Regions from separate parts of the Homo sapiens genome. Here regions 2, 3, 4 and 5 are each reported to be linked to region 1. Evidence: microRNA targets listed by miRTarBase, many of them from high-throughput screens and not tested one by one. Region 1 holds a microRNA gene; each other region holds the end of a gene's coding sequence. Distances are between the middles of the regions.

Region 1 (5,642 bases):
GAGAACTAGATGCCACCCCTCGGATGACCATACCCTATGAAGGTTAGACCCTCAACCTCAAAAGGCAGCAGAAGCCAGGGCTGGGGGTGGGGAGGCACCCCAGAACTAGGGCTCACTGTTCCTGCTCTCCCCAGAGCTCTCTGGGACCCGGCACTTCAAGGGCCAAGCCCAGAACTACTCAACACTGCTGCTGGAGGAGGCCTCAGCAAGGCTGCTGGTGGGAGCCCGAGGTGCCCTGTTCTCTCTCAGTGCCAACGACATAGGAGATGGGGCTCACAAAGAGGTCAGGCCCTGGAACCTGGACCACCCAGAGGGTCTCTATGCTTATCCAGCTCCCTGGGACCTCAACTTCCTTAAAACCCTGCCAGCCTTCCATAGCCCCCTGGTCAGACAGCACTGCCCTTCCCAGCCCAGGTGTTCCTTGCATTCAGTGTTCCTCCTGAAATTGATCCCCACCCCAATTTCCCCAACTCTGTGGGGTCCTATTGCCTGGTCCTATGAGTAATAGGTATTGGGGTCAGTGCATCAGCCTATTCCCTTTGCCTCCACTAGATCCACTGGGAAGCCTCCCCAGAGATGCAAAGCAAATGTCATCAAAAAGGGAAAAACAACCAGGTATGTGGTCTGCCCTGTCCCCAGCTCCTTTCCTCCCCTTCTTCCTCAATCAGGGATGCCAGGATTGTTGGGGACACAGATGGGTAGGTACAGACCTGCCAGTCAATCTCAGCAACCACAGTAAACATTGTAAGTATTGCCAGAGTGGCAAGCCATGGGCACAGCATTTTTTTTTTTTTCTTTTTTTGAGGTCGGATCTCACTCTGTCATCCAGGTTGGAGTACAGTGACATGATCATAGCTCCCTGTGGCCTTAAACTCCTGGGCTCAGGGGATCCTTCCACTTCAGCCTCCTGAGTAGCTAGGACCACGGGCACATGCCACGCCCAGCTAAGTGTTTTATTTTTTGTAGAAACAGGGTCTTGCTATGTTGCCCAGGCTGGTCTTGAACTCCTGGCCTCAAGCAGTCCCCCTACCTTAGCCTCCCAAAGTGCTGGGATTACAGATGTAAGCCATTGCCCCCGGCATCTGGGCACAGTACTTCTAATTCAACCATCTGGTGGCCTACTAGTTTGTCCCGCAGTGGCATCTTCATCTCCTCTGGGATCCCAAATAATCAAAATGGCAATAAGTAGGCTGAACGCGGTGGCTCACATCTGTAATCCCAACACTTTGGGAGGCTGAGGGTAGGAGGACAACTTGAGTCCAGGAGTTCAAGATCAGCCTTGGCAACACAGCGAGATCTGTCTACAAAAAAAATACAAAAATTAGCCAAGTATGCTGGCGTGCACCTGTAGTCCCAGCTACTTGGGAAGCTGAGTGGGAGTATCACTTGGGCCTGGGAGGTTGAGGCTGCGTGAGCTATAATTAAGCCACACATTCCAGCCTGGATGACAGAGCAAAACCCTGTCTCAAAAAAACAAACCAACAAAAAACAGTAAGTAACCTCTACAGATGCTTACTTACGATGGGTTACTTACCAATAAAACCATCATAATAAATTGAACCATTGTTAAGTCAGCAACTATCTACAGCAAGTGATGATTTAGCTATTATCTCAGTTAATTCTAAAATAACCCTATGAAATAGTATTATCCTGCATTTTGCAGATGAGAAAAATGAGTCTTTGGTCAAGGAATAGGTCAAATACCCAGTATTCCATGGACAGGCATTAATGAAGCATCAGCCCTTTCCAGCTAAAGAATAGGGTGTCTCCAGGGGTCCCATGTCTGGCTAGGTAATGGCTCCATCTGGAGAGCTTTTACAAAATAAACGGCCCTGGGCTGGGCATGGTGGGTCACACTTGTAATCTCAACACTTTGGGAGGCCAAGGCAGGAGGATCACTTGAGCCCAGGAGTTCGAGGCCAGCCTGGACAATATAATGAGACTCTATCTCTAATAAAAAATAATTAAAAAAAAATTCCCAAGATCCACTGGGCCAAGGTGGGCCAGGGGTGGTGTTGGGACAGCTCCGTTTAAAAAGGCATCTCCAAGAGCTTCCATCAAAGGCTGCCTCTTGGTGCAGCACAGGTAGAAAATGGGGCTGGGGAGGCAGATGGAACCAGGTCATGGAAGGCCACAGATGCCCAGCTGGGAGTTTGGGTTTTATTCTGTGACAGTGAACACCCTCAGAATTTGATACTTTAGAGGCTCTAACTTTAATGTATCACCCAGGTATATTATAAATGCAGATGCTAAACTTAGTAGGTCTGGGGAAGGGCCCAAGAGTCTGCAATTCTAACAAGCTCCCAAGTGAAGTTGATGCTGCTGGTCCCCAGACCACACTTTGGATAGCAAGGCTTTATAGAACAGTTCCCAAAGCATGTTCTGAGGAACATTAATTTTCAAAGGAGGGGTTTAAATGTCAAATGAGTTTGGGAAACACTACATGCCCAGTCCCACAATGCACAGCAACATCCTTCAGGCTCTAGGAAGTAAGCCCAGTAAAGATAGGTTTCACCTGTGGTTTCCAAAGTTATTTGACCAGAGAATTCCTCCCTACCCCCCTTTAAAAAATGTAAACATCCGCTGGGCACGGTGGCTCAGGCCTGTAATCCCAGCACCTTGGGAGGCCGAGGCGGGTGGATCATGAGGTCAAGAGATCGAGACCAGCCTGGCCAACATGGTGAAACCCTGTGTCTACTAAAAATACAAAAATTAGCCCGGCATGGTGATGCACATCCATGCGAGTAGTAGTCCCAGTCACATCACCATGGTGTTGAGAGTAGTAGTCCCAGCTACTCGGGAGGCTGAGGCAGGAGAATCTCTTGAACCCGGGAGGCGGAGGTTGCAGTGAGCTGAGATCATGCACTGCACTCCAACCTAGCGGCAGAGCAAGACTCCGTCTCAAAAAAAATAAAATTAAAAAAATAAATAAACATCTTGGGGAAACATCACTTTAGGAATATTTATCTGGCCCCAGGCACTGGATGGATGAAAATAGGGTGAGTCTGGAGGCAGGAAAAGCAGTGAGGAGGCTGGGGGCATCATTTGGGTCAGAGGAAGGGGCCTGAGCAGGCTTATGGAGACGGGGGACAGATGGTAGTGGCTTGTACCAGGTGAGGGAGCAGGAGGAGACACAAAGAGGCCTGTATGGATTTAAACCCTGGGTAACAGGCAAGAGGAGGAATCATTAACGTGGCAAAGGAGTCAAGAGGCTGGCAGCTGAGGGCATTTGACAGGCAGAGAAGACCAGTGTGGCTGGAGTAGGGTGAGTGAGACCAGAGGAATGGGCAGAGTCCCATCACACAGGGCTAGGAGCATGTGGGACTCTATATTCAGGTCACTGATGAGCCGATACAGTGGTGTGATCCACTTGACTTTTTTTCAGACATGGTCTCACTCTGTTGCCCAGGCTGGAGTGCAGTGGTTCACTGCAGCCTCGACCTCCTGGGCTCAAACAATTCTCTTGCCTAAGCCTCCCAAGTAGCTAGGACTACAGGTGCATGCCACCACATAGAGATGAGGTCTTGCTATATTGTCCAGGCTGGTCTTGGACTCCTGGGCTCCAGTGATCCTCCCACCTCAGCCTCCCAAAGTGCTGGGATTACAGGTGTGAGCCACCACACCTGGCTAGGTTTACATTTTTAGAATATCCCTTGGAAAGTGGTTGGAGAGTAGCAAAAGTGTGTTGTTTGGTAAAATATCTCTGGAAGGAAACTTCAGACAATAGTAACAGCAGTCTTCTTGGCAGGCAACCTGGGAGACAGGGATAAATGGGAGACTCCCTGTTTATAACATACCCCTTTGTACTTTCTAAGTTTTATACTATGTACATGTATTCATTGACTGAATAAATAGCTTTATAAAGTCGTTTTTATAAAAGAGAAGGTTGGGAGGAGCTATCAGGTAGCAACTGCAGATGTCTAAGGAAGAGGTCATGGTGGTCATTTGGACTGGGTGCTGGTGGTGGAGTCAAAGTGGACCAAGTCAAGAGACTTTTAGGACAATGAATTAATTGTGGAGAGGGACTGAATGTGGGGGTGAGGAAGTAGGAAGCAGCAAGGATGATCCCTGGCTTCTAGGTTGAGTCGTAGGTTGGATGAAGTGAGGTGGGAAAGACTGGATAAACAGGTTTAGGAAAGATGTAGGTTATGGAGGAGGGGATGAACTTGGCTTCTGACAAGGTGAGTTTGAAACATCCCTGGGATATCGGGTGGAGAGCAAGCTGGCATCTAGGGATAGATTTGGTTGTATCACCCCAGCGAGGAGGGCAGGAGTTCCAAGAATAGAAAGAGGTGCTGAGAAGGAGCTGGATGGGAGAGGAGAAGCACCTCAGGATGGTGGAATCCCTGGGAGCTCTTGAACCAGAGGTGGAGGGAACTGCAAGAGACACAGGAGATATTGGCAGAATGGTGTCAGGTAATCTGAGGGACAGAGGAGAGAAATAGGGTCATGTTACTGGGAGGCCAAGGACAGTGAGTTCCAGGAAATATTCTGGAGCAGTGAGAAGGATCACAGGTATCTTGGAAAGAACCGTTTGTCCTGTGGGTGGGGGCAAGAGCCAAACTACAAAGCTAGACTAATGGAGGAGGCTTCTAGTCAGGCAGGGGGCTCACAGCCCTCTCCACCTCATCCCACAGACGGAGTGCTTTAACCATGTGCGGTTCCTGCAGCGGCTCAATTCTACCCACCTCTATGCATGTGGGACTCACGCCTTCCAGCCCCTCTGTGCAGCCATTGTGAGTATACCTGTGTTGTGCCAGATCTCTGTTGACTTCATTAGGGATGGGATCATGTTCAAGATGCCAAAGAAGAGACTCAGAGCCAGTGAAGGAGACGGATGGTTTATTAAGGGGACTTCCATACAGGGCACTCCAGTGGCGGCGGGCTGCACTGGAGAACCATTCCCCTTTGTAAAAACCATGCAGTTTTTATAGCATTTTCACTTAGCATCCTCCCCCTAATCACCTCCACCTGGCAAACTTCATTTAACCCAAAACAAAGGGCCTTGATCCCCTGGACAGCATGTGTTCCACAGGATGGGCTAGGGGCTCAGATGTTCTTCATAGATAAGGAGTGAATCTCTAGGTTGGCCACTTGCAGATTTGGAACTCCAAACATACATTGTTTTGAGGCCATAAGGTCATTCTCAGGGGATGCTTAAGTTATTGCTGTCAGGTGCATCTGCCATACAACCTGCCCCTATCCCTGATCGCTGATCCCTGACCCCAGACTGATCTGACTTTGAGCCACTGTCCCTGCCTGTCTTCGGAACCACTTACTGCTGGTTCCTTGTTCCCTAGGATGCTGAGGCCTTCACCTTGCCAACCAGCTTCGAGGAGGGGAAGGAGAAGTGTCCTTATGACCCAGCCCGTGGCTTCACAGGCCTCATCATTGGTGAGCAGGCCTTCTTCCCTATCACAGACATGGTATTTTTAGGATGTGGATCTCATCTCTAGGACCTGCCACCATGTATATGTCATGTGCCCTGTTGAATATGACATGTCTCTCATGCCTGGAATATCCCCACGCCAGATGGAGGCCTCTACACAGCCACTAGGTATGAATTCCGGAGCATTCCTGACATCCGCCGGAGCCGCCACCCACACTCCCTGAGAACTGAGGAGACACCAATGCATTGGCTC
Region 2 (5,642 bases), not on the chromosome of region 1:
CATAGGGCCTTGCAGTTTGAAGGGCCTGGTGCTTGGTTAAATGCTCGTCAATCACTGTTTTTAAATTCTTAATACTATACTTTTTGAATAAGGGGCTCTGCTTTTTCATTTTGCACTGGGTCCCACAAATTATGGAGCCAGTCCTGGTTAGGGCAGTGGTTGTGGGAATGGAGGAATGATAAGGATCCATAGGTTGTTAGGAGGTCAAATAGGACTTATTTAGTGATTCATTGGATGAAGAGTTAGGAAGAAGGAGGAACTAGGATAACTTTCTGTTTTCCAGACAGATGGTGGTGCTCTTAATAAGATAGGAAATGTGGGAGGAGGAGCAGGCTTAGGGAAAGGGGTAAATAATGAATTCAGTTTTAAACTAGCAGACTTGAAGTACTTGTGGGGTCTGCTAGGATCCCAGACTCTCTAACCCCAATTTCTTCCAGTCCCTATCTCCTTCCCCACATGTGACCCAGCCCCTGCTTTTCTCTACCCACTCTTCTATAGGGCCTCTCTTGTCCCGCATCCTTCTGAATCCTCCCACCCCTTTTAAAGCTAGATTTACCTGGAAACAAACATGCAAACAAACACCAAAACACTCCTTATTGGGTTCCAATTCTGAACCCACAGTGAACACCCTCCTTTCAGCCTCACAGTTGACAAACCCAGGAGTCCCCCATTCCCCTCTCTTTCCTGTTTAACAGACATCATCCCAACTTCCCTCCTCCTTTCTTCTGCAAGACTGGGAAGTGGGTAGAGTGGGGGAAGTGAGCAGAGATGAAAGTCGGGAGGAACTCACATAGATTCTGGGTTTTGGTTTGGGCTTTTTTGTTTGAACTTCCTGCCTCTCAGTAGGGATAGAGGGGGTCAGGATTACTGGCTGCTCTTGGGAGTGTATGGTTGAACCACATTTTGGAGATAACGGAGAAACCATTTTCCTCACATACCATGTGAGAGACAGCTGAACAGTGTTTCCCTGTTCCACAGACCATTTAGGGGCCAGTTGAGAAGGTATTCCAGTATATCTGTAAATGGCACAGTCTCAGTTCTTCAGTCTTGGATACATGAGATCTTAATGAACCTTTGAAAGACTCAAGTCTCCTTATTTTGAAGACTGTGACACTGAGGTCCAGAGAGGGCAAGGACTGACTCAAGGTCACTATTTATGTGGGGCCAGAGCCTAGAGCTCAGATCCCCAGTCTCTGCCCCCCGTTTCTTCCTGTGCCTTGAGTCTCGCTGGCGTGGGTTTCCCACCAGACACACAAAAGCCTGGATTCTTTTCTTTGTCTGAGACTGAGTCTAGACCCATCTGCGTGGAATCTCGAAACACATTACAGGAGCGGCTTAGCCTCGGGCTTAGACTCCTTTTCCGGGTCGTTGGCGCCGCCTTGTGGAGTTGTGGCAAATTCTCAACAGCTGCAGCTGCAGTCCCAGACTTGGACTAGAAATGATCCCCCAGGCCAAGTTTACACGAGCTGGACGAGAGTGGGCGTGGGTGGGATGGGGAGCCTCTGCTCACTCTGCACAAGCCTCATATTTTGCCTCCCCCACCCCCGATTTCCGTTTCCCTCCTCCTTCTCGCTCCCTTTCCTCTTTCTGTGCCGGTCCCATACAGATACATTTAACGACAGAATTGCTCCCAAAACAGCGGGCAAAGACAGAGTCTGAGTCTAGGGGCGGAGGGCAGAACAAATTCAGACTTTATTGTCAGGGAGAGGAAAAAGGGGAGGACCGTGGGTGGGGGGCCTGGGTTGCTACATTGTCAAGCAGAAAGAGTTGATGGGAAGGGGAAGACCAGTGTAGGCCAGACCCCTCCCGGGTCGGCGGCTGAAGGGTTGACGATACGGAAACCACGGAGTCGGGGGTGGGGGAGAGGTGTCACACCCCCGCCCGAGTTGTGCAGTGGAGGTGACTGGTGGGAGGGGACAGCCATGAGGTCTAGGAACTTGGATCGGGGAGGCTACAGACTCGGCGAATCCTGCGAAGGGGAAGGGCGGGGGCGAGGCTTCTATTGCTTTTTGCTCACAGTTTTGCGGAAGGCGAGGCGGGGGTGGGCTTGGACTGGACACCCCTTGCCCCCCTCGGTACCCCTTGGGCGATGGGTGCTGGTGAAAAGAATGGAACCCGGACTAGGGAGGAAGAAGGCGAGGGAAAGGTCTATGGTGGCATCTCCTTGGTCCCACCCAAGTGCCGGAGATGCCCCCAAGTGCTGCCCCCTGCAATGGGCCCGGCTAGACCTGGGGCTAGGGCATGGTGCGGGGCGGGCACAGTGAGGTTGCAGGCGGTAAAACCAAAGTGCTTATGAGGGACCCAGGATCCCGCCTGCTCCCCTCCCCCTACGGAGGACGGGGGTGTTCACGGAAGCGCTTCAGTTTGGGGTAGGGAGCCGGAGTCCCAGAGTCCGCTTATTGCCAAGAAAATCCATTTCTGTCCCCCCCGGACCCCGACCATGGCTTGTGAACCCCGTTTTGTGCTAGGTTTGGGGGGAAGGGCTGGATGGACATGGCTTTTGGGAGGGGGGGTGTCTCCAAGGGGGCTCGGGGGTGAGACGGCCCCCCCTTTTCTAGGGGAGAGGGAAAGGCAGGGGGCGGGGTTCCCTGAGATCTGGGGTGTTCCCCCCCTTCTGAAGCCCCCCTCCCCCGCTACCCCTCCCCTTTCCTGGAACCCCGTATCTCGGGGTGGGGGGGGGGAAGGAGAGATCATTTAGGGAGTGCCGGGAGGAGGGGCGGGCTGGGAGCCCGGACGCCTGGGTCCCGGCTGGAGGTGGGGAGTTGAATGGGAGGGGTTCAGGGTTGAGGTCAGTACGGGGAGAAGAGGATGGGTCCGTGCGCAGTTCGGATGGGTCCGGGGGCCGGGTGAAGCAGAGGGTGAGTGATCGGCGGTCCCTGGAGAAGAGGTGCGGCTGGAGCCGGGCGCAGGGACAGCGGCGAGCCTGCTGCCGCTGCCATCACTGCAGCCACCGCCAGGGGGCTGGGGAGCAGGCCGCCCGCCAGGGACTTGGGCAGCTCCTTGGAGAAAGTCAGCGTGCCCTGAAGCGGGCGAAAGGCGGAGGAAGAGAAGTCACCCGGCGGTCCTGCAAACCCCACCTCTCCCTGGGCAAAGCCCGCGTCCCTCTCTCCTCCCCGCCCGCGCCCTCCCACTGCTGAATTCCCAGCATCCAGGCCTCACCGCCAGCTCCCCGGCGCCCCTAGACTTCTTGTGACGGCTCAGTAGTGGGTTGGGCTTCCCGGCCACGCCGTCTCGGTGCCGCCGGCTGGAGATGTGCTGCGGGGGCCAGTGGATAGGGGGCTGTGAGCTCCCGGAAAGGGGCAACAGCGAGGGAGTATAATCAAGCTCCAAGCACCGGCCCCCTCCCATCTGGCCCCCTGGGGAAAACTCTGAAGAAGGGCCTTTACTCAAGCTCCTTGCTCCCCTTCCCCACTTAGCGGGTGGAGCGTCCCAGAATTCCTGGGAAGGGCCTTAGACCCACCTGTTTCAGTTGGACCTCCGAGTTGACCTTGACATTGCAGATCTCACAGTGGAAAGTTCGGTCCTGGGCAGGAGCCTCTGGTTCCCCCGGGGTGGGAGGCCCCAGCCGAGGGTAAGCTTTGATGGGCCCGAGCCCACTTCGGGCCTCCAGAATTGTCTTGTGCTTAGTACCTGGAGCCCAGAGAGGGCAGGAGGTAAGGGGTGGAAGAAAAATTATCCAGGCCTACTGGGCCTCAGAATGCACATTCCCAGGTACAATATGAGGGGGAAGAGGGTGGGCACAGTGTGGGTTCTTTCTAACTAAGCTCCTTGGGACCCTCCCAAAGAGGTGGATCAGGAGAGAGTCATAGGTAAAGGAGTAAGATGGAGGGAGGAGCTGAGGAAGTAAAGGGCTAAGGAACAGGGGAGATGGCTGGAGAAGGAGACAGGCAGATAGGCTGATAGGTCTTAGATGGTCTAGGGATGTTGGAAGCCAGGGGCATTAGGATGTAGAGGCAGGGGTGGCCTGAGGACAGGAGAGTCTGGGTGGGGGCAGGGGAGTCCATACCTTTGTTATGTGCCTCAAGCTGGGACAGGGAGTTCACAGCCACCTTGCACAGAGCACAGTAGAGCAGCCGCTTGGCTTTCTCCTCCTCTTCCTTGCTACCCCCAGGCAAGGAAGCCGGGGCTGGAGTCCCCCCTTCACCCTTGGTTACACCCTGACCAGTCTCCGGAATGCTGGGAGGGGATGGGGAGCCAGGCTGTTTCTCTGGGGATCCTGGGGCTGGCCCCAGTCCATTCTCCATGGAAACTGTTGTTGGGGGAGAAACATGGGGATCACCCTAGATGGCTCTTGGAGAAGACTCTTCATGTGGAAGAGACCCCCCCCATTTCCTGGAGGGCAAGGGACCAGGAGTCCCCACCCTGTTACAACATGCATGCTCTCATGCCCTGGTCCAGAGCCAGATGTGGTCCAGCTGCCGCAGGCTGGGTGTGAAACTCCAATGCTTGGCTCATTCTCCATTAGCTGGGAATGGCCAAGGGGTCCAGCCTCACCAGCCTACCTTCAGGGTGAAGCTGGCAGCCAGCCCAGCCAGGGGGAGAGGCATGCAACAAGGATATACCCCTCAGTGGCCTGCCAGCCAGTCTGGGCTTCCTGCCAGGACAGCCCCTTCCTGGAGTCTTGCCCAGCCCCCAGGAAGTACACGAAAGAGCCCTAGGAAGGGGCAGAGGCAGGGTGAGGAAAGGTCTGGAGAGATAAACACAGGCATGGCAAAAGGGAAATAGAAACATCAGAACCGGAGAGGGAAGAAACAGGGATGTAGGCTGCTCTATAATTCATGGCTTGATTAAAGATGCACAGGCCCTAGGCCTCAGTGCTGGGTTCTGGCCTCTGTACAGGGGAAACTCTAGCGCTCCCATTCTTGCTCCAGCAGCTGATCCAGTTTCCGGGTCATGGCGAGGCTGGCAGTGGGGGTGGGGAGCTTGTGGGAGGGGAACTCCTCACCCCTCCAGGTACCCATTTGCTTGTTCATCCTATGTCCTTCCCCTTATTTCTCTTACTTTTTTCTGACATTCTTCACCTCCATCCCAATCCAGACAGCACATCCACATCTCAGTCTGGACAGGACTTCATGGTTTATAAAGCACGGCAGGTATAGTTATCCTGCCTATATCCTCAGAGATACTGTAGGAATTAAATGAGGTAATATGTGTAAAGTGCTATTCAAGAAATGTTAGCTATCACCATCATCATCATCATCCTCTTCCTCTCCATCTTACAGAGATGTTAACAAACTAAGATGATCAGGCTAAGAAGCAGCCAAAGTACAATTAGAACTCAGCTTCCCGTGGCCGGGGACGGTGGCTCATGCCTGTGATCCCAGCATTTTGGGAGGCTGAGGTGGGCAGATCACTTGAGGTCAGGAGTTTGAGACCAGCTTGGGCAACATGGTGAAACCCTTTCTATACTAAAAATACAAAAATTACCCGGGTGTGGTGGCAGGTGCCTGTAATCCCAGCTACTCAGGAGGCTGAGGCAGGAGAATCGCTTGAACCTGGGAGGTGGAGGTTGCAGTGAGCTGAGATTGTGCCACTGCACTCTAGCCTGGGCGACAGAGTGAGACTCTGTCTCAAAAAACAAACAAACAAAAAACAGAACTCAGTTCCCCCACCTGCCCGCCTGCCCACTCACTCTGACTGTG
Region 3 (5,642 bases), not on the chromosome of region 1:
ACAACAACAAAAAAACAAAACCCTTTGAGGTAGGGATGATGGTTGAGATATAAACCTACCAGCTGGTCTACAGAGCCAGATTCATATAGAGTAGGGGACAGCCTCATGGCCAACAAGGGACAGAGAAGCAAATGCATGTTTACAGTAGCTATGACTGACGTTCACACGCCCCAGTCTGCTGTCCCAGTCAAGGGAAATGCTTTCTTGCAAAATTCATGCCTGGTCTCACAATCATACATATGCTCAAAGCGTGTGCAAAACCACAGGATTTATTGTGCATGCATAGTTCAGAATACAGGAACGTGTATGGGAGTGAGGGCCGGTCCCATCGAGTGGGGCCTGTACCCTGCAAGTGAGGCCCATATACCCTGAATGGTGTCTTGCTCACAGGTGGTGCCTGGGCCCCCCTATTTGATACTGAGACCCATATACTGTGAATGAGGCCAGTATCCCGAGTAAGTCCTGGTCCTACGCTGCAAGGCCAGTGCCCTTTGATTTAGGCCTATATAATCCTGAATTCCACCTGGCCCCTGGAAGGGGGAATTGTAACCCCCAGTGATGCCGGTACCCTCTGGAAGGAGGCCTCTATCCCCTGAATGAGGTCGGGTATCCTTGAGTGATTTCTGGCCCTCTGTGGTTTCGGCCTTGTTTTTTGCTGGTTAATGAAAGTGGTGCTTCCAGGCCCCAAGTCCTTGTCATCGGGACCTTTAAGAAAAGCGTCTCAGGCCACAGCGACGCAGACCCCAGCTCAAGGCTGCACCGTTGCCATGGAGACGGTTGGGCGGGGGACAGGGGAGGGTGTGCGGCTCCCTCTGCGCAGGCGCACGCGCGAGCAGCCGCGTCGCAGCGGAACTGCTGAGATTCAGGCCCAGGGTGCGCGCTCAGACGCGGCGCGAGCGCCAGGCAAGCTGCGGCTGCTACCTCCCACGCCTCTCCAGGTGCACTCGGCGCCGCCCCCCTGCACCTGGCTGCGGTGCCGAGTCACTCAGGCCTGTGTCAGGGAGAGAGGGAGGGAGCTGTCCTGGAAAGCAGACACGTAAGCCCCCCGCGGATCCTCAGACAGCTCTGGAGAGGGGTCCCGGGGGAAGGTCACTGCGTCCAGCCGGCCAGCAGGCAGCTAGAGCCCCCGAGCCCCGAGCCCCACTCCAGCCTTGCCACATTCACCGGAACCGGGACTCTAAGCCCTGCAAGTGGCTTTCTAGGGTTGCATTGACACCGTGCGCTGCAGCCCACCCCTATCTCGGGCTCCCTGCTGCCCCAAGATCAGCGCCAAGGGGGCTGCACCATGGCCATGAGCCTTTTGCAGGACTGGTGCCGGAGCCTGGACGTGGACGCGCACAGGGCCCTGCTGGTCACCGGCATCCCGGAGGGCCTGGAGCAGGCAGACGTCGAAGCCGTCCTGCAGCCGACCCTCCTGCCCCTGGGCACGTTCAGGTTGCGACACATGAAGGCTTTGATGAACGAGAAGGCCCAGGCCGCCCTGGTGGAGTTTGTGGAGGACGTCAATCACGCTGCCATTCCCAGGGAGATCCCAGGCAAGGATGGGGTCTGGAGGGTTCTGTGGAAGGACCGTGCGCAGGACACGAGGGTCCTGAGGCAGATGAGACGCCTGCTGCTGGATGACGGGCCCACGCAGGCCGCGGAGGCTGGGACCCCCGGGGAGGCACCCACCCCTCCCGCTTCGGAGACGCAGGCCCAGGATTCTGGGGAGGTAACAGGGCAGGCTGGCTCGCTTCTTGGGGCAGCCAGGAACCCAAGGAGGGGCCGTCGGGGTCGCAGAAACAGAACCAGACGCAACAGGTTGACCCAGAAGGGCAAGAAGAGAAGCCGAGGAGGACGGCCGTCTGCTCCCGCGAGGAGTGAGGCCGAGGACTCTTCCGACGAGAGCCTGGGCATCGTGATCGAGGAGATCGACCAGGGCGACCTGAGCGGAGAAGAGGACCAGAGCGCGCTGTACGCCACGCTGCAGGCCGCTGCCAGGGAGCTGGTTAGGCAGTGGGCGCCCTGCAACTCCGAGGGGGAAGAAGACGGTCCCCGCGAGTTCTTGGCTCTGGTCACCGTCACCGACAAATCGAAGAAAGAAGAGGCAGAGAAGGAGCCAGCTGGGGCCGAATCCATCCGCTTGAACACCAAAGAAGACAAAAATGGTGTCCCCGACTTAGTGGCCCTGCTGGCTGTGAGAGACACCCCGGACGAGGAGCCGGTGGACAGCGACACTTCGGAGAGCGACTCGCAGGAAAGTGGGGACCAAGAAACAGAGGAGTTGGATAATCCTGAGTTCGTGGCCATTGTGGCCTATACCGACCCGTCGGACCCCTGGGCCCGGGAGGAGATGTTGAAAATCGCTTCTGTTATCGAGTCGCTGGGCTGGAGCGACGAGAAAGACAAGCGAGACCCCCTCCGACAGGTCTTGTCCGTCATGTCCAAGGACACTAACGGGACCCGCGTGAAGGTGGAAGAGGCGGGCCGCGAGGTGGACGCCGTGGTCCTGCGCAAGGCCGGGGATGACGGGGACCTCCGGGAGTGCATTTCCACCTTGGCGCAGCCGGATCTCCCTCCCCAGGCGAAGAAGGCTGGGCGTGGCCTCTTCGGGGGCTGGAGCGAGCACCGTGAGGACGAAGGGGGTCTTCTGGAGCTGGTGGCGCTCCTGGCTGCCCAGGACATGGCGGAGGTGATGAAGGAGGAAAAAGAAAACGCCTGGGAAGGCGGGAAGTACAAATACCCCAAAGGCAAACTGGGGGAGGTATTGGCGCTCCTGGCCGCCCGGGAGAACATGGGGTCCAACGAGGGGTCGGAGGAGGCTTCGGACGAACAGTCCGAGGAGGAGTCGGAGGACACCGAGAGCGAGGCGTCGGAGCCGGAGGACAGGGCATCCAGGAAGCCCCGGGCCAAGAGGGCGCGCACGGCCCCCAGGGGCCTGACTCCGGCCGGCGCGCCTCCCACCGCTTCCGGGGCCCGCAAAACCCGCGCGGGCGGCCGAGGCCGAGGCCGGGGCGTCACTCCCGAGAAGAAAGCCGGGAGCCGGGGCTCGGCCCAGGACGACGCCGCAGGAAGCAGGAAGAAGAAGGGGAGCGCGGGCGCCGGGGCCCATGCCAGGGCAGGCGAGGCCAAGGGCCAGGCGCCCACTGGATCCAAGGCCGCGCGCGGGAAGAAGGCCCGTCGGGGCCGGAGGCTGCCCCCTAAATGCCGCTAGTGGCCCCCCAAGAAGCCGCCCAGGCTGCGAGCAGGCCCCGCAGGGCACCCGCCCGCCTGTGGCCCCCGCCCTCCCCTCCCCTCTTCCTGTCCTCCGCAGACGCAATCTCCTCGCTTCACAGCGCGCCCGGGCCGCGTTTTGCCAGCGTCACGTTCCCCTCTCGGGCCCTCGCAGGCCGGGGGCGCCAGCGATCCCGACGGAGGAAGCCCGGATGGGAGGAGGAAAGAGAAGTGGGCGCCCGAGGCAGCAGCGCAGGGCCGAGATGGGGACGCGCCAAGTGGACCAGGATTGGGGGCCCGGGTTGCCCCCGGAGGGGGTGTGTGTGTGGACGCCGGGCACCTGCAGAGGCGAGCAGGGCTCTTCGTGGCGCTCTCGGGGCCTGCGCCTGGCAGGTGCTGTAGGCCGCTGTCGCCCCTACCCCAGTCTGACTGGGCCCTGGGTCTGTGGTGGAGGCTCAGTCACCAGCCGCGCAGCGCGTGTCAGGGCGCAACTCTCAGCCAGGGGAGGCCCCAGCTCCCAGCCAGGGGAAGAGATGATTCCAGAAAGGAAAGTCTGAGAGATAGAAGGCGGTTGGGAAGGGGAGGAGGAGGAAAGGGGAGAGGAACGGTGGGAGAAGGGAAAGAGGAGGAGGAGGGGGAGGGGGGAGCAGAGGGAAGACACATGCCAGCCCTGCCTACTGGGGCGCCCCTGATAACAAAGGAACCAGCCCCAGGCCAAGGCCACCTGCCCCTGACCACAAGTTGAATTTGTCACTCAGACTGCAGTGTTTCCCAACATTCTAATTATTTGCAGAGGTGTTCAATTTGGGGTAATTCACTTAAAATCCAGTTTTGGTTCTTCTGGGCTGAGTGGGCCCTGGCCCCTCCCATAGGCTGTGGCTCCCCTGGGTGCCCCCTCTCCAGTGGAGCTGACCCACCGCTCAGCGCTGGCCTTGCAGCCCTTACTAAAAGACTTGAAAGTCCCTGGGTTCACCCCCTGAGTGAATTAAAGGCCAGAGGGGCCCCGAAGGGCACTGTGAGGGACAGAGGCTCACCTGGGCAGTGCAGAAGCCGGCCGCGTGTCCCTCCTTACAGGGGATGAAATGACCTGGGGAGGAAACCCCAGCCCTGCCCTGGAGGTTCCAGAGTAGGCGGGCCGGTGCTGTGAGGCTTCACAACCTGCTGTCCCAAGCACGCTTGAGTTGTATGTGAGTCTGTGCCGTGCCGTGCCGTATGCTTCAGCTCCTGCAACCCCGGCTGAGCTCGATTTTTACCTAAATATCAGTCTCCACGGGACCCCACCTTCATTCATGCCTTCTTGTCCCTGGGGCAATGTGTGTGCTTCCTCGTCCCAATTTCCATTCCCTGGCAGTGAGGAGCCCATCGTGCCAGGGGGCCCTGCCCCACTTGTCCCTGGGAAGGAATAGGAGGGTTTGGGTGTGACCTCACAGTCCAGACCAGACTGTCCCAGTCCTATGTCAGGGACACCCAGATGTAGAAGCTGACTGAGACCTGCTGCAGGGCGTGGGTGCTCCCCTCTGCTTGGAGGCTGTCCCTGGACAGTGACCCACCCACTGAGGACCAGGCTGGGTGTACCTTGAGCTGGGCACAGCAGCCTGTGGTGTTGCCTGTGGGTGGGGAGGGCCCCAGGTGTGCTTCTCCCGTAGCAGTCCTAGGCTTCTCTCCCTGTGCCCTGTGTCACCTGGATCCTCCAGTAAAGTGAAATTCAGCACTGTACTCTCTCTGTGCTCTGGGCAGTGGGGCAGGCGGGGTGTGGGAGCGTGGGCCACAGATGTCCACGGTCTTGACTGTGGTTTGCCCAGAATACCTGGGAACTGTCCTGTCACTGGTTTACATACACTGTCCTTTGCTGCTTCGGGATCCCTGCCTGGCTCTCCCTACCCCCCAGCATCATCTCACCCCTTGCAGATCTGAGCCAGCTTCCACTCCCACCCCTGATGCCTCCCCACTTCCAGCCTCAGCTCCGAAGCCCCTGGACACCCATGGAGACCCCGCCCAGCCAATCCCCACCCTAGCTTCCACCCAGATACACTCTGCCAGGCCACAGCTGCAGGCACTCTCCCCCCAGCCTCCACCCCTCACCTGTGCCCTGGACCTCAGACTCAGCTTTCCATCCTACCTGAGTTTTCTGCCTCCCTCCATCCTGTGTCCCCCCACCATACATGGCTGCCAGAGACGTCCTCTTAGAAGTCACACCTGGGGTCTGATTGCGTCCCTCGCCTCCCCAGATCCCCCAAGGTCTCCTTCCTGTGCCGTCATATCTGCAGTTCTTAGGACTGTCTAGACATGCTTTGTTCAACTAGGTAATCACACGGGGTAAATTGGATTTAAATGTAATTAAGATTAAATAAAAATACACATGCATGTCCTCAGTCTTCCCAGCCACGTCACAAGTGCTCAAGAGCCACACGTGGCCAGTGGCTACCGCATTGCACGGTGCTGGTGCAGGA
Region 4 (5,642 bases), 600 kb from region 1:
TGCTCAGTCCTCAAACCCCAGCTCACATATTCCAAACCTTTAGCTCCAAATCAGTAGATATCTGGGGCTGCCTAGACCTGGCTGAGGGCTTTCAGCACCTGGCCCCTTGTCCTAAGTGGAGTTTCACAGACCTGGGCACGTGGGCTGGGGCAGGGGCAGAGAGAGTCTGTGTCTCCCTACTCTTAAAGAGCTCCACAGGGCAAGCTCAGTGCCCACTCTCAGAAGCAGAGCCGGCACCTTCTCCCGTCTCTCCTCAGGCTTGCCTCCTGCACAGTGAGCTTTTTCTTCTCTCCTGTCCTAGCGAAGGGAAAGAACAGCAGCTCCTCAGGGTGGATTCCCCTGGGCTTGCAGCAGGCATCTGGAATGGGCATAAGCTGAGGGTGTGGGCCCGAGTCTGGGAAGGCCCTTGTACTGCTGTGGGAGAGGAGCTCCCCACGCACAGCCCCTCACCTGTCACCGCTCTCTTTCCCAGGTCCAGAAAGCAGCCCAGGCCTTTAACTCTGGGCTGCTGTGTGTGGCATGTGGTTCATACCGACGGGGAAAGGCGACCTGTGGTGATGTCGACGTGCTCATCACTCACCCAGATGGCCGGTCCCACCGGGGTATCTTCAGCCGCCTCCTTGACAGTCTTCGGCAGGAAGGTATAAGCTCCATCTCTGGGTGAGCAGGTTGACAGAGGGCAGCACAGGTCTGGGGGCCCCCTCAGAGGGAGAACCTCAGAAGTTCCAGTCCTGAGGCAGGAAGCAGGGGAACAGTGCTTTGCCAGCATCCCATCTCTCTATCGGGGCCGGAATCCTCTCCAGGGAGAGATGGAACAGCCCCGCCACACCTATGTGGAGGTGCTCAGTGAACCCTGCAGGCCAAGTATCTCATCTGATCTTTCTGTGACACTATGGGGGAGATGGGAATTACTATCCATGTTTTACAGAAAAGGAGAAGGGCCCAGAGAGGGTAGTGTCACCCAGCTAATACCTGGGCAAGCCCCAGCTTAGACATCAGGAGAGACCTGGGAGGATGGGACAGCCCAGGCCTGGTTCCCTGCCCTCCCAGCAGTCCCCTCTGTTGGGCCAGGGTTCCTCACAGATGACTTGGTGAGCCAAGAGGAGAATGGTCAGCAACAGAAGTACTTGGGGGTGTGCCGGCTCCCAGGGCCAGGGCGGCGGCACCGGCGCCTGGACATCATCGTGGTGCCCTATAGCGAGTTTGCCTGTGCCCTGCTCTACTTCACCGGCTCTGCACACTTCAACCGCTCCATGCGAGCCCTGGCCAAAACCAAGGGCATGAGTCTGTCAGAACATGCCCTCAGCACTGCTGTGGTCCGGAACACCCATGGCTGCAAGGTGGGGCCTGGCCGAGTGCTGCCCACTCCCACTGAGAAGGATGTCTTCAGGCTCTTAGGCCTCCCCTACCGAGAACCTGCTGAGCGGGACTGGTGACCCATGGCTGGGGGTGCTGAGGAGAGCCGAGTTGGACTGGCTACCCCTCCTGGCCACCCAGTACTCCCTCCAGCCTCAGCTGGCTGAACCTCGCCGCTCCAACCACCAGCTTCCTCAGCGAGCAGGGCCCAGGGCTCTGGGCCTGAAGCAAGAGCCAGCCCGGCTCCCAGTGTCTGCCCGGCTCCCAGTGTCTGCCCAGCCCTCTCCCAGACAGGAGCAGGCTGCCACCCCTTCTACCTCACCACTGCCCCTCGAAGAATTTTGCAAATGGCCCCTTGCCCCATTTTAAGCAGGAGCAGGTGGCTGGTTTGAAGCCCCAGGTATCCCCCTTCCCTGCTATGGGAAAGGCCAAGCTGCTGGGTGGGGACAGAAGCTGCAGGGGAGAGGGAAGCAGCCGTGCTGTCAACATCATCCGGCACCCTCTGGGGTAGGAGAACAGCCATTCCACATGTGTTCCCTCTATCCGTCCTGCTTCCTGGGCAGCTGGTGGTGCTGGGAATGGGGTGCCCCAGCCTTGGTGAGGACAGTGTTGGGAGGCCCAGGGGCCCAGTAAAGTGCATTTGACATTGAACCTGCCTGGTGTCTGAGCTGCTGCAGCCTCTGGCTACCTTGTTCCACCCAGGCAGGGACGACAGAGATGGGAACTGAAAAGAGGAGCCCAGAAAGGCTGTGTTAACTGCCCTCCAGACAGGACTGGCCTGAGTCAGCTCCTAAACTCACAGCAAGGACAGCAGTGGCTGTGACCAGGGAGAATGTTGGAGCCAGGCACCCAGAGCTCCTATCTAGTCATCAGCATCTTCTGCAGGCCCTACCTTAGACCAGGCTATCAGGGGACATGAGCAAAAGTGACAAGACTCAGGAAACCATTAGGAACAACTAAATGGTGACCGTGTACACAGGGATGGGCGGCCAGGGAAGGCTTCCCGGAGGAGGAGAGAGGCAGACTGGCAGGGAAATTGCCTCTGAGAGGAGTCAGCAGGCTCTGTTTGGGGACAATTAAGGAACAGCTTTAGAGAGGACACTGTGTGCTGGGAGTCAGGAGCAGGCTGGGCTGGCAGAGGACTGGAAGCAGAGCTTGGTTTGATAGAGCAGACAGGAGCAGGTCCCGCTGGGGAGTGCGGGATGTCTTCCTGAGGCTGTTTCACAGGGCAGGGAGACTTGGTGGGGGAGTGGGGTCATGGAAGGAGCTTCAGGCAGCCCAAGTATGAGGAGGAGTGGGCACAGAGTCAGAAGGAGACTGTATTGGAGGAGGAGCCTGGAGAGGCCCCATGCTGGGAGTTGGGTGGTGACGCGTGAGGGCAGCTTTGGCTCCACAGGGGGATCCCACCTTGAGTGTGCTGGGTGGGCTACATTTCTGTTGGTAACTTGCAGAGTCCCGGAGCCAGCCTTTGTCTGCCTGGTCTCGATCATGGGATCCTAGCAGCCTGGGAGTAGGCCCCCCAACTCAAGCTCATACCCCTGAAGTGTAAGTCAGGGGGTCTTCCCAGCACTGATCATGTTGGGAAAGGAATCAGAAGCCCACAGGACCTGGAGGGCCCTTTCGCAGCTCAGCACCAACCCAAGAGATGGCCAATCAAAAGCCCAGAAGCCTTCTAGAGGGGCGAGCCTCTCCCCTGAGAGTGTCTACTGCCAGGGACACATGGCTGCCAAGAGCCACAGTGGGGGCCTGGGTAGATAGGAGAGGGGCTGGGGAAAGCCTGGGCCCCCGGGTGTGAAGGCTTGCTTTTGGTCCCACTCTGGACTGGTCCCTCAGTGCCTGCTGCTGTCCCCAGCAAGAGTTGGAGTCAGCAGAAGTCCAAAGATGCGTGTCTGGGTCCAAATGTGGAAGTTGCTTCTCTCCTTTTGCCGCAGCCTGCTCCAGGCCCAAGGAACAGGACCTCCAGGGCTGGGGGTGGAGGGAACCAGTGTGCAGCAGGCCATAGAGTAGCTCGCCCAAGTTTTCCTACACACAGGGAGGTCCCAGAACTGCAGGGAGGGATGCCGCTTACTTCTTTGTCTGAAATCAGGGTCTGACCTCCATTCTTGACATCCCTCCCCATCTGCCTTAACTCCTTCCCCCAGGAGACTCAGAATTCAGAGACTGCCTTGAAACCATGCAGACTCTTGGTCCCACCTCCTGGCCAGGGCAACACAAAGTCGTGGGATAAAGAGGGAGCATGCCCCACCTCCAGTGACCCATCTGGGTGTCCCTTCAGCTGCCCAGTCTGACACAGAAGCCCAGGAGAAGAGCCACTGAGGCAGAGGAGCTAATGGAGGGATTTCTGAGTCTTGAGAAAGGCTGCCCAGTTTGGAGGTAAAATGAGGTGAAATGAGGTTCTCTGAGTCCAAGTAAGCAAGGAATATGAATATTGGGGGTTCCCAGGCACTTTAGCGCTGAACCAGGTTCTCGAACAGGCTTTCAGCCCAGTCTCCCATTCATCCTGAATGGAGAGAGACTCCATTTCAGGGCCCTGGTGGTAACTGGGGTCCTGTCCAGCAGCTGAGCACCCCGCACACCTACCACCCAGTCACCACCTGGCCTGGAGTAGGCAGAGAGACCCCACAAGCCTGCTCCCTGCTCCAGCCCAGTTCTTCATCACTCTGTCCCTGAGCCAGGGTTGTCCTTGGACAGGCCACGTGTGGCAGGCAGAATAATGGTCCACTGAAGATGTCCATGTCTTAATCCCTGGAACCTGTGAATATGTCACCTTAGTTGGCTAGAGGGACTTTGCAGTTGTGATGAAGCTTAAGCATTTTGAGATGAGGTGATTATGCTGAGTAATCCTGTGGGCCCAGTGTAAACATGAGTTCTTAAGAGCTACAGTCAGGGCCGGGTGTGGTGGCTGACGCCTGTAATCCCAACACTTTGCGAGGCCAAGGCGGGTTGATTGCTTGAGCCTGGGAGTTTGAGACCAGCCTGGTCAACATGGCAAAACCCCATCTCTACCAAAAAAAAAAAAAAAAAAATTCAAAAGTTAGCTAGGCATGGCCAGACCTAGTGGTGCCTATAATCCCAGCTACTTGGGAGGCTGAAGTGGGAGGATCACCTGAGCCTGGGAGGCAGAGGTGCAGAGGTTCCAATGAGCTGAGATTACACCACTGCACTCCAGCCTGAGTTGTAACAGAGTGAGACCCTGTCTCAAAAAAAAAAAAAAAAAAAAAAAAAGCTACAATCTACAATCAAAGAGAGACTTGACGAGGAAAGGTCAGAGAGATGCGAAGTTTCTGGCTTTGAAGATGGGGAAAGGTCTCCAGCCAAGTGTGAGCAGCCTCTAAGAGTCAGAGAAGCCAAGGAACAGCTTCTACTCTAGAGCCTCCAGAAGGATGGCAGCTCTGCTGATGTCTGGCCTTATCTCAGGGAGCCCTGTTGGATTTTGAGCTGGTGGAACTGTGAGATAATGACTGTGGTGTTTAAGCCAGTAAGTTGGTGTAATTTGTTAATGTGACTGCAGAAACCCAATAGACCGAGTGCGTGTTGGGCTCTCCCTGTACAAAGGCAGAGGGACAGCAAGTGTGAGCAGGCCCTGCTGTGAGGTAGAGGGCATCCTCTGAAGTGTGTGGGGAAGGGGGAGCCTCACATGAGCCCAGGGCTGCCACATGTTCAGTCTGAGCCTCCCTAATTTCAGTTTCTTCTTGACACTGTGCAAGATGCAAGTCCCCGCTGGGCTGCTCTGCCCCACCCCTACTGAGCTTGGAGCTTCATCTTTTCCCAGGGCCTGGGGTGGGGACCTCAGTCTTGACCTTAGACCTACACTAAAAGGGGAGCAAGACAGGCCCCGGCCTTTCCTCCTGGGTTCCAGCTGCTCACAAGGCAGACGTGGGCACCGGGAAAGGGGAGCGAGACAGGCCCTGGCCTTTCCTCCTGGGTTCCAGCTGCTCACAGGGCAGGTGTGGGCATGGGACAGGGGCTTCCCAGGCATCACCTGGAGTGGGCATGACAAGGTAGGCAAGTCTAGCTGTGTCCCATCCTACAGTTCCAATGGCTGGGAAAGGCAAACCCAGGCCCATTGTCTTGCTTCTCCAGGAGAATCATGGAATTACTCTCCCTTTAAATGGAATGGGATGCCTCTTGCCAGGATGGAGGACTGTGGCTTGGAGAAGACTTGGGCTCCCCAAACAGGGGCGCCCCTTTCCAGGCCCTCCCCTGTTATCTGAGGGAGTGGCCTCCCATGCAAGTTACTGCTGTTGGGGCACCTGCTGCTACCAGGCTTGCAGGCCTTGATGGGC
Region 5 (5,642 bases), not on the chromosome of region 1:
CAGCAAACACATGGGGTGCAGCGAACCTCACCCATTTCACGTTACACTGACATCCTCCGGGTCCCTCCGGGGAATGGGTGAGGTTCAGAAGAGATGCCCAGATGAGGCACTGCAGGAACCCAGAGGGAGAAGTCGCGGCTGACAGAGATGAAAGCGGAGTGGGTGGGGAGACGGGGAGGGGATGAAGAGATGTGGGTGGCCTGGAGGATTCGGGAGCAGGGAGCAAGGCCCAGGAGCCTGGGGTGTCAGAAACGGCAGCTGGTTATGGTCGGGTTGTGTGGTGTGGTGGAGAGAACCCAAGAAAGCTTCTAAACCAGAGTGTGTTTGGAGGTTGGAGCAGAGGGCGAGGGCCTCCCGGTTTCAGGAAGCCACACAAGGGAGGACCGTGGGTTTGGGACCAGTCCTCTGGCATCTGTGTGGAGGTGGCCCAGCCACTGTGGAGGCCTGAGGAGTCATCAGGGGGCCCCTCTCAGTGCATCCAGGTGGGAGATGGTCATGGGTGGCAGGAGACAAGACACAGAAACCTGAAGGCAGAACCCCAGGCCTCGGGGGGTGACCGTGTGGACAGCAGATGCCAAGAGGGTGCCGGGCAGGGAAGCCGCAGTGGTCAGCCACCCTCCCCCACGCTGCTCTGACCTCTGCAGGTCCCAGCTCCAGAGGAGCATCTTCAGCGCCCTGGTGGTGGCCTGGTACTCCTCCGCGTGCCACGTGTCCAACACGCTGCGCCCACTCACCTACGGGGACAAGTCACTCTCGCCACATGAACTCAAGGCCCTTCGCTGGAAAGACAGCTGGGACATCTTGATCCGAAAACACTAGAACAAGAGTGTGGCAAAGAACACCCGTGCTGGGGTCGGGATGAGGTTGAAGGGTCTTGGTCAATGTACGTAATGAGCAGGGTGGGCCCCACGCTGGGAGGACACGGGCTGGGCTGAGCAGGGCCTCTAGTGGAACACATGGGGGTCTCATTGAAAAGCTCTCTGATGAGCACCTCCTTTTGTGCAAAGTTAATTTTTTCTCGACAATAAAGATATTCCGTGTCTTTACCCCTGAACTAAGACACAGGGAGTATTTCAGAGGCCAGCGTAGGAGTCATTGACAACAAAAAGCCGAGAACCCAGGGCCAGCAGTGGAGCCTCAGCAGACCAGGGCCTGGTCCTTGCTAACTGCTGCAGGGTGGAGTTTGATCTGGCAGACCCGATCCTCCTTCATGAACACCCAGCAACCTGAGCAAGTCCCGGCCCTGCCCTCAGCGAGCCCGGCAGGCGTCCTGGGACAGCTCAGTGTTGGAGGGCCACCTGAACCACGAGCCAGGGCTGGGGCTTGCATGTCATTGTCTATGACAGCGTCAAGACTGGCCCTTGGCACCGTGCTGTGTGGAAACCCTCCCCTCTGAGACTCCACTGAGACGTGGCTGAGTGAAATCTTCCTCGTCAGTGGTCAAGGTGTGTCATCCATACAGCTCCATGCCTTTGTCTTTTTTAAATGTAATTAAAAAAGGAACCAACTGGCGTTTGTAGTTGGTGTTTGTTATTTATTGATTCTCCCTCCAAAGGGGCCTAAGCTCGACAAAACCGTTACAGTTGTCAGAACCCAGCCACAGGGCTCAGCCCCCTTCCCCCACGTCACGTCTGCATCACTACTGTGGGTGAGCCTGGACGGACGGGGGCTGGGGCTGCCCATGGCAGCGGCAAGGGATGCTTTCCAGAGACAGCCACCACGCAGGAGGGAGGATCACCCCAGGCAACCCAGACACGGGTGTTCACATGTGAGGCTGTGAGCTCCACATAGCACAAAGGAGGCTTGCTGACTTTGGGCGGCCATGTCTGCTGGGACCTGGGTGATCCAGTGCGTGCCACAGCCAGAAGCACCATTCCCTGCATATGGCCACTAGCCACCCTGGGGTGGGACAGCCTGTCTAGACAGACAGCACCTTGGGGGCTCCCCTGAGGGTCAGTGAGGGCCTGACCCCAGGCAGGACTGCGTGGACGCTGTTCTCCAGCCGGGACAGACCTGGCCTCCGCTGCCTTCTGCCCTACTGCATGGGCTCCCAGCCTGGCCCCGCACAAGCCTGGGTGTGATGCTGGGTGCTTCCAGGGCATCCGCCTCGCTTCTCTGCCTTTAAGGCACAAGCAAGGGGGGAAAACATCCCTCAGTGGCTCCCCATATCCGTGTAGGCCACGCTGGACTGCAAACCACTGGGTCATGAAATTAGGTTTGTAGGCCACAACCAGCCTTGTGTTATGAAACAGAAAACAGAAAACATGAGGACATGTAACATGTAAAAAAGGAAAGTACTTGTTCACAAAACTTTTGAGTTATGTGTGTGAGTGTGTAAGAACCAGATCAGACTGGAAAAAACTCTCTCCCACTGTGGGTTCACTGTCAACAAAACATCAGGCCAGCCAGTGTCTAGGCTGTCTCCTCAATTTCCCCAATAATGTGCCTCACATTCCTCACAGAAGCCTCCCAGGCTTCCTGCACATTCTGTGGCATTTCTCAGTGACCTAGAGGGATCTTTAAACCGCAACGAGCCTAAGTGGCTGAAAACCTCAGGAACGCCTGTCAGTGTCCCAGCAAGTTGAGTCTGAGTGACACATCTGAGTTTCCACTCCTGAGTGAGGAAGGCCTCGCTGCTAACACTCCCCTGGGGTGCGCCGAGAGGAAGCAGTGGGTGTGGGTGGGCGTCCCCAGGCTCAGTCCCTGAACACACATGCCGGGCGGGAGACCTGCCCTGAGGCTCGGCAGCCCCTCAGTGGGGTCTGCTGCTGGACTCCAAATGTGACCGTTTGCCAGAGGTCAGCATCCCAGGGTGGTCCCCTGGCTCAGAAAAGGTCCGCTTGTAGCTCCGCCCATTGGACCCTCCTCGGTGCCATTTGCAGATGTCACCATTCAGAATGTCCTGGATGTGCTGCACGATCAGGTTGATGGCAACTGCGCCAAGAGACAGACAAGCAGCGGGTTAGCCGCATCCATCCTCCGTGGAGACCGCCCCTCCCCGCAGCACTCGGCCAGGAGTGAGCGCCCAACCTCTGCCCTGAGGCACAGCCTGCGGCGAGGGGCATCGAGTCAAATCTCAGCAGACAGAAACATGCATCAGGACACAGCAAAATAAGACTTCTTAGCTTGGTCTTCCAGGAATTTATGTTAGAGTCTGCTTAAAGTACTTTCTGCTAACAGATTTGAATATACATATATATATGTTTTAAGAAACAGGTTCTTACTTTACTGCCTAGGCTGGAGTGCAGTGGCCCAATCACAGCTCACTGCAGCCTCAACCTCCCAGGCTCAAGCAATCCTCCCACCTCAGCCTCCTGAGTAGCTGGGACCAGAGGCACATGCCACCATGCCCAAATAATTTTATTTTTTGTAGAGATGGGGTTTTGCTATGTTCCCCAGGCTGTTGAACTCCTGGGCTCCAGTGATCCCCCTGCCTCAGCCTCCCAAAGTGCTGGGATTACCAGTGTGAGGCACCGCGCCCAGCTACATACATTTTTAAGCATATTTTAACCCTGTGCCGCAGATCAACACTGGCAGGCCGCGTGCGCAGGGGAGTGCTCAGTAACTGCACACTGGTGGAACTGTCCCTGCCTCAAGCTCTGGGAGGGGCGGGGGGACAGCCCAGCAGGCCAGCTTCTTACCCATATTGTCCACTCCTCGCGGGATGATCACATCGGCATACTTCTTTGTCTGTAAGGCACAAGGGGGGGTGTTCCTGTGAGGACTTTTCCTTCAAAGGTGATTTTAAGATGCTCAGAAACAGATGCAACAGCAGGAGGGGCGGCCCTGGGGTGCTCAGAGGTGCTGGTGTCATCGGCAAATGGGGGACACAGACTCAGTCATCAGCCAGGTGTGAGAGGCCATGATCCAAGAAGTGAGGCAGAAAGTGCAGCTGAGGCAGCCAAAAGAAAGTGCCTCTTCCAGTGTCCCCATTCCATCACAGAAGACAGCCCCCTTCCAGTGTTCCCACTCCATTACAGGAGACAGCTGGCTACGCTAACGACTCAATTCACTGGGCCAAGCTAAGTGTGGCACTTCTACAAAGTGTGACATTGTTCCTCTGGAATCATGAAGCTTCTGCAAATACCCTGGCACAGCAACAGGACAGCCGCCGCCGTGCATAATTACTGCAGGCAGAGACGCTGATGGTAACTTACTCCCTCATCCAACCACTCATTGGCTCAATGCTGACTCTCATTCCCTGTCAGATGCTCTGCTGCTGAGGAAGGACAAGGATGGAGATATATCAGGAAATGCAGGGCTGCTGGGGAGGGTCCGCAGCCAGATGGTGGGGGTTGGGGGGTGGCTTTAGGGAAGGGGAAGCAGCCTGGAGAACATGGCTGAATCAGACAAAGCTGAGGGAAGAGGGAGGGCAGGGTCTGGGCCGAAGGACGGAACTTGGAACGGTGCGTGCTGCTGGCGTGTGGATTTGGGTCAAGAAGGCGGCAGAAGAGACAAGCTGCAAGAGGCAGACAGGGACCAAGTCCTGGGGACAGCTGTGTCTGCAGTTGGTGGGACCCCATCTCATGAAAGCACGAGCGCAAGGGCGAGGGCTGCTTTCTATTCTAGTCTGATAGTCTGACGGGCTGGAGGAGTCCGGGAGAGCTGACAGGGGTCTTAACCGCCAGCAGGGATGGGCCTGAATACAGTTGGGAAATACCTACGGGGTCCAGGCAGAGGACTGCACAAGCCACTCAACATGAAGGTGAAGGAAAAGGAGGCTCAAGAACGGCTCTGGGTGGGGCTGGGGCCGGGTGCGGTGGCTCACGCCGGTGATCCCAGCACTTTGGGAGGCTGAGGTGGGTGGACTGCTTGAGGCCAGGAGTTTGAGACCAGCCCAGCCAACATGGCAAAACCCCGTCTGTGCAAAAAAAAAAAAAAAAGGAAAAATTAGCCAGGCGTGGTGGTGCGTGCCTGTAGTCTCTGGCTACTCAGGAGCCTGAGGTGGGAGGATCACTTGAGAGTGGAAGGTGGAGGCTGCAGTGAAGCAAGATCTCACCACTGCACTTGGGCCTGGGTGGCAGAGGGAGACCCTGTCTCAAAAAACAAGCAAGCAAACAAACCAACCAAAAACATCTCTGGGGCCTGGGCCCAGAACATAGCAGGTGACAGCACTTCCTCTACTCAGGTCGCTGAGGCAGATTTGATATCCAGAGTTTTACTGCGAATCACCTACTTTTTGCCAAATATCTTTCTGTGAATGAGAGACTAAAACAAGTTAACTTTACTTTTAAAATTATATTTTAGAAATTTCAGACAGCATGAATGCAAAAAAAAACAAAAGTTTTCTTTATATAGCAGCCAATAGGCCAGGCATAGTGGCTCACACCTGTAATCTCAGCACTTTGGGAAGCTGAGGTGGGAGGACCACTAGATCCCAGGAGATGGAGACCAGCCTGGGCAACACAGGGAGACCCCATCTCTACAAAAAATTTAAAAATTAACCGAGCATGGTGGTGCACGCCTGTGGGCCCAGCTACTCGGGTTGCTGAGGTGGAAGGATCGCTTGAGCTTAGGAGGTCAAGACTGCAGTGAGCTGTGATTGCACCACTGTACTCCAGCCTGGGCAACAGAGCAAGACTCTGCCTCATTAAAAATAAAATTTAAAAAAAGGCCAGGCACAGTGGCTCAATCCCAGCATT

What was found. Region 1 holds the annotated microRNA hsa-miR-608 (AGGGGUGGUGUUGGGACAGCUCCGU, at 2,006-2,030, shown strand). A microRNA usually pairs through its seed, bases 2 to 8, with sites in the 3' UTR of a target mRNA and lowers its output. Matches are read on the target gene's strand: a 7mer-m8 pairs with bases 2 to 8, a 7mer-A1 pairs with bases 2 to 7 and ends in A, and an 8mer does both.
Region 2: miRTarBase lists ZNF385A as a target of hsa-miR-608. Seed matches in the 3' UTR shown: 7mer-m8 at 2,667-2,673, 7mer-A1 at 2,597-2,603, 7mer-m8 at 2,039-2,045 and 7mer-m8 at 1,853-1,859.
Region 3: miRTarBase lists PNMA8B as a target of hsa-miR-608. Seed matches in the 3' UTR shown: 7mer-m8 at 5,121-5,127 and 7mer-m8 at 5,264-5,270.
Region 4: miRTarBase lists POLL as a target of hsa-miR-608. Seed matches in the 3' UTR shown: 7mer-m8 at 1,661-1,667.
Region 5: miRTarBase lists UCK1 as a target of hsa-miR-608. Seed matches in the 3' UTR shown: 7mer-A1 at 2,649-2,655 and 8mer at 1,901-1,908.

What each region holds. Positions count from the first base shown.
Region 1 is chr10:100,972,995-100,978,636 of GRCh38, forward strand. It overlaps MIR608 (microRNA 608), which reads left to right and starts at 1,991; the gene lies at 1,991-2,090. It overlaps SEMA4G (semaphorin 4G), which reads left to right. Exons shown (of 15, transcript NM_017893.4): 2 at 1-42; 3 at 135-283; 4 at 553-615; 5 at 4,638-4,736; 6 at 5,301-5,394; 7 at 5,533-5,642. It also overlaps a transcript of MRPL43 not described here.
Region 2 is chr12:54,367,467-54,373,108 of GRCh38, forward strand. It overlaps ZNF385A (zinc finger protein 385A), which reads right to left. Exons shown (of 7, transcript NM_015481.3): 4 at 4,007-4,249; 5 at 3,461-3,630; 6 at 3,160-3,255; 7 at 1,670-3,020. The coding sequence ends at 2,790. All of the region lies in intron 1 of GPR84-AS1 (GPR84, ZNF385A, ITGA5 and GTSF1 antisense RNA 1), which reads left to right. Among named protein-coding and RNA genes, the nearest start is that of GPR84, 5.8 kb to the left of the region's middle.
Region 3 is chr19:46,491,109-46,496,750 of GRCh38, reverse strand. PNMA8B (PNMA family member 8B) reads left to right here and starts at 884. Exons shown (of 1, transcript NM_020709.3): 1 at 884-5,560. The coding sequence starts at 1,286. The coding sequence ends at 3,193.
Region 4 is chr10:101,575,247-101,580,888 of GRCh38, reverse strand. It overlaps POLL (DNA polymerase lambda), which reads left to right. Exons shown (of 9, transcript NM_001174084.2): 8 at 473-641; 9 at 1,072-2,007. The coding sequence ends at 1,436. Among named protein-coding and RNA genes, the nearest start is that of POLL, 10 kb to the left of the region's middle.
Region 5 is chr9:131,522,288-131,527,929 of GRCh38, forward strand. UCK1 (uridine-cytidine kinase 1) reads right to left here. Exons shown (of 7, transcript NM_031432.5): 6 at 3,642-3,690; 7 at 1,514-2,934. The coding sequence ends at 2,753. POMT1 (protein O-mannosyltransferase 1) reads left to right here. Exons shown (of 20, transcript NM_001077365.2): 20 at 645-1,512. The coding sequence ends at 819. Among named protein-coding and RNA genes, the nearest start is that of UCK1, 6.2 kb to the right of the region's middle.